3 separate regions of the Homo sapiens genome follow, and regions 2 and 3 are each reported to be linked to region 1. Evidence: microRNA targets listed by miRTarBase, many of them from high-throughput screens and not tested one by one. Region 1 holds a microRNA gene; each other region holds the end of a gene's coding sequence.

Region 1 (4,193 bases):
TCATTTTCTGCCTGGTCTTGCTCAGACTGGGGAGGAAGGGAGGTTATTTGCAAAGGAGATCCAGCTTTAAAAGGCACAGGCTCTAGCAACTAAAGATGAGACTCTATCCAGTCTCATTCTAATACCTCAGTTTCCCTCCCTGCTCCACCTGCGGAAGTCTAGAGAGTAACAGATTTGCTGTCAAGTCCTGACAGAAGTGGAGGACAGGTGGACACACCCATTCCCCTCTGCCATGACTGCCACGTGCTCACCTTTGAGGAGCCCTCAGGCGGGGTCAGCTGTCGCTGATGGGCCTTGTAATCAAACTTGTAGTAGGTGTGCAGGATGCGCAGCAGGTAGATGCGGCAGACCTCCTCGGTAGTGCCCTTCTCCTCCAGGTAGCGCTGCACACGCTCGATGATGGCACACACCTGGGCCTCATCCTTCAAGTGCTCCACGTACTCTGGCAGGGAGAGCACCCACCCTTGTCTCAGCTGGGCAGCCAGGCTTTCCCATCTGTCCCCACTCATTCCAATCAACCCGTCCCTCTTCTGCACCCGTCAGAAAAGTCTAGTCAGTGTGCCCCAGAAAGGCCATCTCCCACTCCCAGGACCCAGAACCTTCCAGTCCCACAGCTTAGGAAAAAAATCCCAACTGCCAACCTCTGCCAATAAGGGTCTGCCAGGCCTGGCCCTTGCCTGGTCTCCCACGATTCTCCCTCTGGCTTCCTGTGCTGGAGTCCCACTGGCCTTTTTACTCCTGGAACATCAAGCTCGCTCTCTGCTCCTCCTGTCAGGCGCTGTCTTCAGCTGATTCTTCCCCTAACTCCTCCTCATTGGATCTCACCTCAGGTGGTCCCTACTTAAGGGTGCTTTCTCCAGCTGTTAGCTACAGCAGCCACCCCTCCAGCCACTTCTTACCACAGGGCCCTAGTTTAACTCTGAACTTTATATCATCTAGAATTATTATTATTATTTTTTGAGATGGAGTTTCACTCTTTCGCCCAGGCTGGAGTGCAGTGGTGTGATCTCAGCTCATTGCAACCTCTGGCCCGCTGGGCTCAAGGGATTCTCCTGCCTCAGCCTCCCACATAGCTGGGATTTACAGGCACCTGCCACCATGCCTGGCTAATTTTTGTATTTGAGTAGAGCCAGGGTTTTGCCACGTTGGCCAGGCTGGTCTCAAACTCCTGACCTCAGGTGATTCACACACCTCGGCCTCCCAAAGTGCTAGGATTACAGGCGTGAGCCACTGCACCTGGCCCAGAATTATCTTAACATCATACTATTTTTTTTTTTTTTTGAGATGGAGTCTTGCTCTGTCGCCCAGGCTGGAGTGCAGGGGTGTGATCTCGGCTCACTGCAAGTTCCGCCTCCTGGGTTCATGCCATTCTCCTGCCTCAGCCTCCCAAGTAGCTGGGACTATAGGCGCCCAGCACCACGCCTAATTTTTTTTGTGTGTGTGTGTGTATTTTTAGTAGAGATGGGGTTTCACCGTGTTAGCCAGGATGGTCTCAATCTCCTGACCTCGGGATCCGCCTGCTTCGGCCTCCCAAAGAGCTGGAATTACAGACGTGAGCCACCACGCCCGGCCATATCTTACTACTATTATTTTTCAATCTGCCTTTCTCCATCCAGCACAAAAGGTAAGCTTTTGGCTGCCTTGTTAATCACTACACCCTTGACTTGATGGGCACATTCACACTTTTACTGAGTAAACTATGCTGCACTTTCACACCCCAATGCCTCTCATCCAAGCTAAACAAGAGAAGTGAATAGATGCCTTACCCCAAAGGTTCTCAAAGTATAGCCCTGAGACCAGCAACCTGGGAGCAGGCTAGAGGTGCAGGTTCTCAAGCCCCACTCAGACCTATGGAATCAGAAACGATGGGACTGGGAGCCAGCATCTCATCAGGCCCTTCCGTGTGAACGCTAGGTAAGTTGAAAGGCTGGCTTTTCAAGCACTCTGACTTAGTATAATCCTCACAAAGCTCTAAACCTAGTAATATTCCCCACAATTTTCCTCTCAGCAAAGCCCACGCTTGCTCAGGCTCACCTTGGGAGTGAGGGTCAGTATTTTGCATTATTTTGGTAAATTCTTCATCCATTCGTTCCACCAGAGTTAGGATGCAGCCACGGACACGCAGTGGCTGAAAAGGAAGGCGAAGGAGGAGTCAACAAATTAGCCCAGATCTCAGTCTCAAACCTCAACCCTCGGGTCCCACTGAGCCTTCCCAAAGCATAAAATACACACCTCCAGTTATCCTGCCAACTCCTCCCTTTACCTGGTCAGCGTTGTGCAGGTTCTCACTCTCTTCCAGAATATTCTCTCCAACAAAAATGTTGGGATTTGCAAACAGGATATCCATCAGCTCATTGATGCAGTCCAGGCACTTCCCCCACATCTCTGGCTGCCAAGATTTCAGGCCACATCAGAGTCAGAGGTGTGAAGGTAGAGTAAGCGGATGCCTCCCCCTTCAGCAGGAATCATGGGGCCTTCCACCACCAAGACTGCCTCCATAGCCCCTGAGTCTTAAGATGCTAGGTACCTTCTTCCCCCAACCCACCAGCGATGCCCTGAGATGAGCCTCTTCACTGCTCTCACCTTCATGTAGGTTGCCAGGTTGGGGTTGTAGTCATAGAGAGAGGCGATGATATTGAACTTGATCTTGACAATGACGCCCTCTCCCAGGTTGTTTTCCGCTGCAATCTGAACCAGCAGTTGCAGCAGCTCAATCTGGGCAGCACTAGAGGGCCAGAGAGCTGGGTGAGGCTTTGGAGACAAATCACAAAGTCTCTCCCAGCATGCCCGCTTCGGATAACGCGCCCTCCTCATCACCCATATCCCTGCTTCTCCTTTATAAATTCCAAACAGAAGCAACAATAATCCCAACCATCCTGGAATGCTGTGAAATGCTTCACACCTACCACCATCCTCTGTTACCTAATAACTAAAGAAGGTAAACACTCTTTTACTTTTTTAATCTTAAAAAAAAAAAAAGCCAGGTGTGGTAGCTCATGCCTGTAATCCCAGCACTTTGGGAGGCTGAGGCAGGCGGATCACTTGAAGTCAGGAGTTCGAGACATGGTGAAACCCCATCTCTACTAAAAGTACAAAATCAGCCAGGGATGGTGGCGGGTTCCTGTAATCCCAGCTACTCAGGAGGCTGAGGCAGGAGAATCGGTTGAACCCAGAAGGCAAAAAGGTTGCAGTGAGCCGAGATCGCGCCAGTGCACTCCAGCCTGGGCAACAACGAGACTCCATCTCAAACAAAAAAAAAAAAAAAAAAAAAAAGAGGAGAACATTATCTCATTGTATAGATGGGAAAACAGATCCAAAACGTTAAGTGATTGGTTTTAAGTCACAAGAAGAGTAAACAGCAGATAATGGACGGGGATGCCCCAAGCATACAATTCCCTCTACTACAGCCACACACAGACCCTCCCAACAATCCCTTCCCCCAACCTCCACCCTCTGCCACCCTGCAATCCCACTGCCCAGGCCCACGAATCTTACCGATCAGTTCCCTTCTTGCCTCGTGCCTGTAGGATCTCATTCAGTTTCTTGATAACAACAGCATGGGTGATCTCAGTTCCCTTGGCAAACATTTTTGGCTTCTCCTGTATCAGCACATATCCCGTCATGTACATGCCAGCGGGAAACTGTCCTTGCCTTTTCCCCACAAGGGGACCTTTATGTCCTCCCAAACTGTTCCCCAATTCATTTTACCTCTGAAACCCTCACCTTAACCAACGGCACTCCGCCCCGGACCCTTTCCCACTCCCCGCCTTCATTGTCCTCCTCCTCCTCATCCAGGCGCTTGGATTTCCTGTCGTGCTTCTTCTTAGCTTTGTCCTCCCGTTTCTTCTCGGCTGCCTTCTTGTCCTCATCTGTGGTGGGTGCCCTGCCGACAGACATGGGAGAAGATGACAGATCAGCCCCTCCCCACCTCTAAGGCTTCTTCCTCCCATCAACTTCCTCTTTTCCTCCAGCAGCTCCTGGGTCCAAGTTATGCTCTACAACAATGACCTAGAGGGCACAGTGAACCATAACCATAGCCATCTCTAACAAGACAGAGTACTAACCAGGCCACTGTAGACATATTAATAGAAACAACCTGTCAGCTAAGCATGGTAGATCACTTGACGTCAGGAATCCAAGACCAGCCTGGGCAACATGGTGGAACCCCATCTCTACTAAAAGTACAAAAATTA
Region 2 (4,175 bases), not on the chromosome of region 1:
ATTCTGGAAACTTTTTGGGTTATAGAATTTGAAGAATCTATTTAGAGCTATAGAACTCCTCTTAATCCTCCCCAAGTTGTACTCAACAGATTTATTCCTTGCTCCCTAAAACCTATCCTTAGAAATTGCAAGTTGAGAATTCACCCCACCACTGCCCACTGTTCCAAAAAGCTTTACTGAATCTCATTAATGAAAAATAATGTAAAACTCTCCATAGGAGGCATTAACATACTTGTTTCTTCCAAACCTTCTGATTTCCACTAAAATTTGTAACCAAAATATATTAGGAAAAAGTAATTAAGCTTTAATGCTATTGCCTGGCCCAGTCTAACTATGATCTTTTAATTGTGGAGACATGGCAGTTCCCTGAAAGACCACAGCCTTTGGAGACTAGCAAACCTGGCTTGATCACTGGTTGATAGTTATTTTGCTGTATTAATTTGCCTTACTTTTCTGAGTCTGCATTCTCATCTGTAAAATGGGTGTATGACTTATGATAGGGAGCTATTTGAAAAACAAAACATCTGACACAGAAAAGGCTGAATTAAAACCTTTAGAGACCCAAAGCAGCAGGGCTATTGTGCCCAAATCACTCAAGGTATTGGTAGGAAAGAACACAAACTGAGGAAGGTTTAATAAAGGACTATTTACAGAGACATGGACAGAGTGCAGGAAAATCAATGAAGAATAATGGCGTAATCCAGGGCTGGTAACTAAGTCCTTTTTTTTTTTTTTTTTTTTTTTTTTGAGACAGTCTCGCTCTGTTGCCCAGGCTGGAGTGCAGTGGCACGATCTCAGCTCACTGCAGCCTCTGCCTCCCAGGCTCAAGCAATTCTTGTGCCTCAGCCTCTCAAGTAGCTGGTATTACAGACATGCATCACCATGCTTGGCCAATTTTTGTATTTTTAGTAGAAACAGGGGTTTCATCATGTTGACCAGGCTGGTCTGAAACTCCTGACCTCAGGTGATCTGTCTACCTCAGCCTCCCAAAGTGCTGGGATTACAGGTGTGAGTGACCGCACCCAGCTTGAGTCTTCTTTTTTTTTTTTGGAGACGGAGTTTCACTCTTGTTGCCCAGGCTGGAGTGCAGTGGCACGGTCTTGGCTCACTGCAACCTCTGCCTCCTGGGTTCTGGCAATTCTCCTGCCTCAGCCTCCCGAGTAGCTGGGATTACAGGCATGCGCCACCATGCCCAGCTAATTTTTGTATTTTTAGTAGAGACGGGGTTTCACCATGTTGGCCAGGCTGGTCTTGAATTCTTGACCTCAGGTGATCTACCCGTCTCGGCCTCCCAAAGTGCTGGGATTACAAGCGTGAGCCACCGCACCCAGCTCTCGAGTTCTCCTTTCTTTCTATTCCTAGATGTGAAGGAGCAAAGAGAAGGAGCCAGAAGCTAGAGGGGGCTGCTTGGTAAGAGCTGTGGTCTTTGCTAAAGGGACACAGACAACCCATGTGACCTGGCAATGAGAAAGCCAGAGTACTCTGACCATCTCTTCCTTATATCTTCTCATCTTCTTTGGATATTAATAATTGGATAAACAGAAGCTGAAGTCAGAGGGCAAGGGAGCCATTCATGCTGCAGTCCATGTGGGTCAGCACCCGCTGGGGTCCAGAGTGGGATGAAGAGGGGTTCTGAAAGGCAAATGGAAGACATCTAGTATAACCTCTCCCTGAACGTAATTCAAACTACTTAACTATTATTACAGACAAAAATCACATGTATGCTGAAAGTAAAATAACCTGTTTCCAGAATTTCTGATTGCAAAATTCTGAGTTCTTCAATTAAACCTGCATTTTTCTCAGTCTTTTTGGTGCCCCTGCTTCACTGGTGCCTTAAGAACATTTGAGAGCCTAAGGGCAGCCCTGAGCATGGTGCCTGAACTAGGGTGCCTCAAAACTAGGGACTGAGGAAGTCTCAAGTTCATTCCTGAATGCTGACTATAAGAGTCTCTGAGAGAGTTTTGAGAATGTAGAACTGATTTAGAATGAATCTCAGGATTTTTCTGTTAAGATCTATAAATTAGGAATTAAGGAACTGGATTTTTTTTGAATTTGAAAAATCCTATGATAGTATAACTTTGCATAAGCCTACTGAATGATAGGAAAGTTTTTAGTTTCTTATCAAAGAAAGAGAATAAAGTGAATCAGGACATCAGTTTCACATTGACATTTTTATTAACGCCAACTGTTTTTTAATTATTTTTTTAAAACAATAGCACAAAAATGTTTCAAGGAAGCAGTCTCACAATCTGATGACCTTCTGAAATACCGTTAAGCCACACCAAATATGAATTTCTGTTAATAACACAAAATATTTTTTTAAGAAAAAAAGAAAAAAAAGGTAGGGAAAGAAGAAGGGAATGAGATTTAGATTTAAAACTCATTGGATTAAATAGGTGAGGCTTATTAGGATATACTGTTGAAGCAAACAGTGGCACACACAGGCTTACAGTCTTTGTTTTTTAAACCAGTTACCACTAATGTATTAAGCCCTGCAGCAGTTACCACTGACTTCTCGCACGCATAAAATGAACCGGGAGAAGCCAGTGTTGATACTGTTGTGAAGAGGTTCAAGAGCTGGCTTTTCAGACAACTAAGACCATTTTTAGCAGAATAACTCCTTCAGAAAGGCCTGGCTGAAGATCTTTTTATTTCTATTGTCTCACCTATATAAATTTCAGGGTTCTTATAAGTCATCTTTAAAAAGAAAAAAATAATGTATATCAGTTTCTCTTATTTAATGTGGCTATGAAAGATGTTTCCTTATTATTTCTTCATCTCTAAGAAGGACACCAGGGAATGGGGGTTGGGGGTGGAACTAAAGGGAGGAAAAAAACCAGAACAGGGTAGGTTTTTGTTTTTTGCTTTTTGTTTTTTTTTGGCCAAGGGGTCGGTCACACAGAAGGGAAGGCAAGGAGGAAAACTAAACTACAATCCTTGGTTCAGATTGAGTTATGCAGGAATATATCTTCCTGATCAGTCCCCGTGCCAAAAAAAAAAAAAGCCACTTGGAATTATGCACTGACTCCAACTATGTGATACCAGCTATCAGCCTTTTGTGTTTAACCATTCCCAGAAATGGACACCACCCTTGGCTTTATAGGCTCCTTGCAGAACCCACTTCACAAAAATGCTCTTCACCAAGAAGCCTCTAGTTTCCTTTTGGTAGGTTATAAAAACAGAACATCTGTCATTAACAGTAGAGTGTTAAATACTTTTAACCACTGACAAGGCTTCAGAAAGTTTCACAGTTTCGTTATGCTCTATTTTATTACTATCATATTTACATTTTTATTTTTTATTTATTTTTTGCTGAATTGCTGATTTTCCTTTTTCAATAGAATTTAATTCTGGAGTGTGAGCAGGAACCAGTTAACTACATTCATTGTCCAACCCCCACTGGTTTGAAAGAAGACTCCAAATTCTTGGCATATGAATCAGCTGTTCGGTAGCTCCACCTTATCCCTGCAGCGAAGCAGCAGAACCGCCAATGGCGGCACCTCAGGATTCACACTGTGGGTGGTGAGGCCTTCCGCTGAAGGAGGTACTGGTGGATGCTCTCAGCATCTCGCTTTAGCCAGGCAGCATTCAGCAGAATATTTTCACAACACTGCTGGATGGTACGCTCAGCTGAAGGAGCTGGGTGACTCTCGAAGAAAGCCTGGTATAAAACAACCCAGAATGCAGGATCATTACTAGCAATAAGAAGTTAATATTACAGGTTATGAAAAAATACCCACTGGTCTATATGAAGGATGCATAATCTTCAGGCATGAGAATTTACCACTGCCACCCTCAGGCTAAAAGAAAACAAGCAACTCCTTGGACCTGCATATAGGAATTCTCCCCTTAATTATATGCTTAACAACCTAATCAAAAGTTAATAAAGAGACAGAACCTACTGCCTTTCTTTTAGGCTAATTGTGTAGTGGTAAATATAGTCTTTGGAATGAAGACTTGGAACCTGAATCCAGGCTTAGTCATGTACTAGCTTGTGACTGTGAGAAAATTAACTGCTCTAAGTCTCAGTTTTCTCAACTATGAGAAAATATCTACTCCAGAAGATTAAAGAGACAATCCATATAAACATTTGACAAAATACCTAGCACAGAGTACTTAAGGATTCAACACATTTTGGCTGCTTCAAATAAAGATTAATTTGTAAGGGATGATAA
Region 3 (4,193 bases), not on the chromosome of region 1:
ACAAAAGGAAAAAAAAAGGAAAGAAAAAAAGAAAAAAAAACGAAGAAAGAAACAAACATAATAAAAATACACATCAGCATCAAAGGTCAACACAAGGTCAAAGGTGAGAGTTCAAGCATCAGAGAAGCTGAAGAGACAGGGATTTGGACGATGTACTTGACGCCACATCGACATGCTTTAGGCACAACGATGAACAAACGGCAGGAATCTAGAAAAAAAAACAAACCAGAAAGAGGGAGACCCACTGAGTTACACAGAGCAATACATCCAAACAAAGAGAGAGAGAACAGGAACACTCACTGTGTGTACAGCCCTGAAATGAGGTGGGCGGGCAGGGGTTGGGTAATGACAGGGAACTTTTGCACATGCTAACAATGGACACAGGGAAAAGTCAAAAAGGACATGGAGGACACCAAGAACACATCTAATTGCCAGAGACAGAAGGGAACCTAAGGCTTGGATTTTCCATGAAGCACCCAACTCCTAAGAGAAGGTCTCCAGGGGAGCAGAGCCTCAGCCTCTCTCCCCACTCCCTGGTCACAACCCAAGGGGAAGCAGAAGATGCTGGCTGGGGTGGGGAAAATTTTTCAGGGAAGAGGACCAGAATTTCTGCTCAATCTTATGGGGATGGCCCTTTGTTCCCAGAAATCCAAGCTCTTAGCTTCCATCCAGGCCCTGGCCACTCAAGGGGAACCCAGGAGACAGTGGTCTGGCTGCATTCAAGGCAAATCAATTTCATGATGTAACCCAAGTAAGAAACAAAACTACAGCAGAAAACACATTGTAAGTGAAACCTTCACACAACAGAAAAGGATTGCTTAAGACTTGACAGCGAGTCTCCACTCTGAGCTGAGCCCTTTCACACGTGAGACTTGTAGGGGAGCAGCTTCTTCACAAAACCATCTTTGGCCTGGGGAAAGAACTGTGCTCAAGGGCAGTGCTACTGCTGTGCTAACTCACTGGGCAGGGGGAGGAGAGAACAGAGAAGTGCATGGTCTCACCAGCTGGCTGCTCAAGCAGCCCAGGACCCTGCTGGGGCGAGCATTCCTTTTAGAAAAGAAAACCCATCAGCAGGTATGAAGCCCTCAGGGTCTGGTATCAAAGGTGGGTGGATTGCACCTTGGCCTCTTATGTCATTAGGAAAGGGGTTTCATAAGGTCCCAGAGCCCAGGACAAATCCATGGACAAATAATGGTGAGATGGGGGAAGGCGGAGAGAAGAAGGGGATGTGGGAAGGGAGTGGCGTTCTGGCTAAGGAGGAAGACAGAACAGAAGGCTAGGGAGCACAGCACCGGCAGCACCCTATGGAGCACAGCTCTCTCCTCTGCCAATTCACAGCATTAACACCTTCCCCTTGGGCAGGTTAGCTGGGCTGCAAACGGGCCACAGAAAGTCAGTAGTTTCAATCATACACAGCACCCTGTGTGTATAACAATCACATTCTGGATTCTACAAAATCCTGGCCTTTTCCAGAGATATAATTTAGGTAATAAATATTCTCCACCCCGGAGCTGTATAAAACTTCTATAAAAATAGAAACGACATTCTTGGTTCCAGCCGGTTGGGATTCAGAACAGCGCCTCCCCAACCTAGCATTTTTTTCTTTTTTTTTTTTGTTTTCTTTTTTCTTTTTTATTTTTATTTTTTGCATTTATTTAAAAAATCCCATCATGACCCTGGAAGCCTTTAGAACAGTTTTATCCTTTGAAACACAGGACACATTTCTCCCAGTGCGCAGAATTTCAAGTTTACGTGGTTCAGCTTAAGAAGTGTATGTTTCACGTTCCTTAGAGGACAACAGACCCAAGTTATCACTATGAGAAAGGAACAGCTGTCCCAGCTTCAATGGGATAATCCAACACCACCAGCTACCTGTACAACAGTAAGATGGTCAATCCCTGTCTGTTACCCACAGGGACAGCATGACAAGGAGAGAGCCCCCATCTGACTTAATAGCAAACCAACCCCTTTATTCTTATCTCTGCTGCTAGGGGTCAAGACTGGTATTTGTTGAGGTTTCAGATTCCAGAGACCCAGGGATCCCATCCCTGGCTGTGGCTACAGTCACATCTTAACAGGGCCACCTCTGCCCAGGTGTACATTCCCAACAGCATGTCCTTCCTGGTTCTCTACCCCCACAGCACTTCTTAGAGCAGAGGCAGAGCCCAGAAGCTGTGTGGGTCACAGGCAAGAGCTGAAGTAAGACCTGCAAGAGGCGGCAGGGAGCTAACTGTAGCACGAGGACAAAAATGAACACGGTAATACTGAGGTAAATGAACACTCAATTCATGTGGAGGCTGTAAACGTCCTGATGTCACCTCTGCCTCAAGAGCAGAAAATGTGACTGGAGTGGTTACAGGAGGGGCCTGCCAGACCCCTGTGGGAATACTACATCTGGGACACCTCAATCAAGGAGGCAAGGGAGAATTTCTGGCCACTGGCAAATGAAGCATACTGGCTTGCAGGGACCTTCTGATTCAAGTACACCAAGAAATAAGCTCCTCCTCCCCCAACTAGATGGTATTGATCACTCTGCCCACAAATGGTACCCCCTTCAGCAAGAACTGCAAGCCCTTCTTGGATTTGCCTTCATGAGAAAATGGTGGCTTGGGATGGAGGTGACATTCCTTGCTGTGGTGAACTGCAAAGAAGGAAACCAGGCAATGTATTCCATAGAGGCCTTTAAAGAGACCCGTTGGAAATGGGCCATGGTCTAATTTGGTGTTGAAATAAACTAACCTCTTTGGCTGTTTCTCCCAAACTGCCACCAGCCAGGCAAGGCCAATCCAATACTGACTGCTGGCTGGGGGAGCTCGTAATGGGTGATGCCGCCCTGCTTTTTGCATATGTCAGGCTAACAGGTGCTTTATTTCCAGAGAATTGTTAATGCCCTTTTTTGAAAAGAGCAGCAGAAATTCCGGACAAGAATCTGAAAAATAGGTGTCAAAAACTATTTCCCAGAAGGTAGCTGTACAGGAGTTTGAGTCTCCAGCTGCCAGGGCATTAGGTGTCTAGTCACTCCACTCTTCCCCAAAGCCGCTCTGCTCCCCACAGCTCCCAGGTGTCAGTTCTCATTCTACCCACCCTCACACTAAGAGAGGTTCTGGGGGTCACTTTTTTGTTCCACTCAGTCCTCTCTCTTGGGGTGGTTTGGGGCAAATCCTGATCATCGTCTGTGTTAAATGTTTCCCTGTCCCCCTTCCCCAGGGTGGTTTGGTGTTGGTCCTTCTCAACACACACTGGTTACAAACACAGCAAACTTTAAATAAAGGAGAAACAAAAACAAAAACAAAAAAAACCTCAGGATATGGCACCTAAACTCCAAAGTAAAACACTGGAAACCAAAGCACAAACTTGTCCTCTGTACGAAGCGAAACTCCCACAGAAGGCAGTAGCCGAGTCTTCAGGGCAAGCTGTGCCTGCGAGAGTGGCAGGGATCAGGGTCCAGGGCTGTCAACACACAGCCTCAGGGCTTCGAATCATTAAGGGTGCTCCTCCCCCACTTACCAGAAGACCCTCTCACTCCAGTCTCAGAGGGGAGCACGCTCAGTAGGGCTTGCTGTCATTCTTCGAACGTTTGAGCTGCACTTTAAGCCGCTTCATGCCAATCTGAAAGCCGTTCATGGACTGGATGGCAGCTTGGGCCGAAACAGGATTGTCGTAACTTACAAAACCTGTGTGTCCAAGCAGAAACCTAGGTGAGGGACATAATGAGGCAAGGAGATTCTCAGTCCTCCTTATGCAAGATACCTTATGTGCTTCATCTCAAATCCCAATTTTATTCAGCAGGGACAAGAAATCTGGACATTATGTCATACGAAATAAATTAGGTTCTTAATAGTACCACTTAACAGCTACATGGTAATTTAAAGGTTTTTTTCTTTTTCTTGAGACAGGGTCTTGCTCTGTCACCCAGGGTGGAGTACAGTGGTGTGACCATGGTTCACTGCAACCTTGGCCTCCTGGGCTCAGGTGATCCTCTCACCTCAGCCTCAAGTAGCTGGGAACACAGGTACACGCCACCACGTCTGACTAATTTTTTGTAGCCATGAGGTCTCACTCTGTTGCTCAGGCTGGTCTCGAACTCCTAGGCTCAAGCGATCCTCCTGCCTTGGCCTCCCCAAGTACTGGGACTTACAGGCACAAACCTGGACTGTTTAAAGGTTTTTTTGCAAACCATTTTCCATATATTA

Evidence for each region. Region 1 holds the annotated microRNA hsa-miR-6862-3p (CCUCACCCAGCUCUCUGGCCCUCU, at 2,728-2,751, opposite strand). A microRNA usually pairs through its seed, bases 2 to 8, with sites in the 3' UTR of a target mRNA and lowers its output. Matches are read on the target gene's strand: a 7mer-m8 pairs with bases 2 to 8, a 7mer-A1 pairs with bases 2 to 7 and ends in A, and an 8mer does both.
Region 2: the mRNA of NPEPPS is a reported target of hsa-miR-6862-3p. Seed matches in the 3' UTR shown: 7mer-A1 at 2,661-2,667.
Region 3: miRTarBase lists CELF1 as a target of hsa-miR-6862-3p. Seed matches in the 3' UTR shown: 7mer-A1 at 996-1,002.

What each region holds. Positions count from the first base shown.
Region 1 is chr16:28,722,854-28,727,046 of GRCh38, reverse strand. MIR6862-2 (microRNA 6862-2) reads right to left here and starts at 2,795; the gene lies at 2,726-2,795. It overlaps EIF3C (eukaryotic translation initiation factor 3 subunit C), which reads right to left. Exons shown (of 21, transcript NM_003752.5): 9 at 3,724-3,883; 10 at 3,496-3,599; 11 at 2,584-2,725; 12 at 2,264-2,389; 13 at 2,035-2,128; 14 at 252-442; 15 at 1-26.
Region 2 is chr17:47,621,254-47,625,428 of GRCh38, reverse strand. It overlaps NPEPPS (aminopeptidase puromycin sensitive), which reads right to left. Exons shown (of 23, transcript NM_006310.4): 23 at 2,153-3,661. The coding sequence ends at 3,509. KPNB1-DT (KPNB1 divergent transcript) reads left to right here. Exons shown (of 4, transcript NR_171700.1): 4 at 3,342-3,902. Among named protein-coding and RNA genes, the nearest start is that of KPNB1-DT, 26 kb to the left of the region's middle.
Region 3 is chr11:47,468,684-47,472,876 of GRCh38, forward strand. It overlaps CELF1 (CUGBP Elav-like family member 1), which reads right to left. Exons shown (of 15, transcript NM_001376376.1): 15 at 1-3,674. The coding sequence ends at 3,547. Among named protein-coding and RNA genes, the nearest start is that of RAPSN, 22 kb to the left of the region's middle.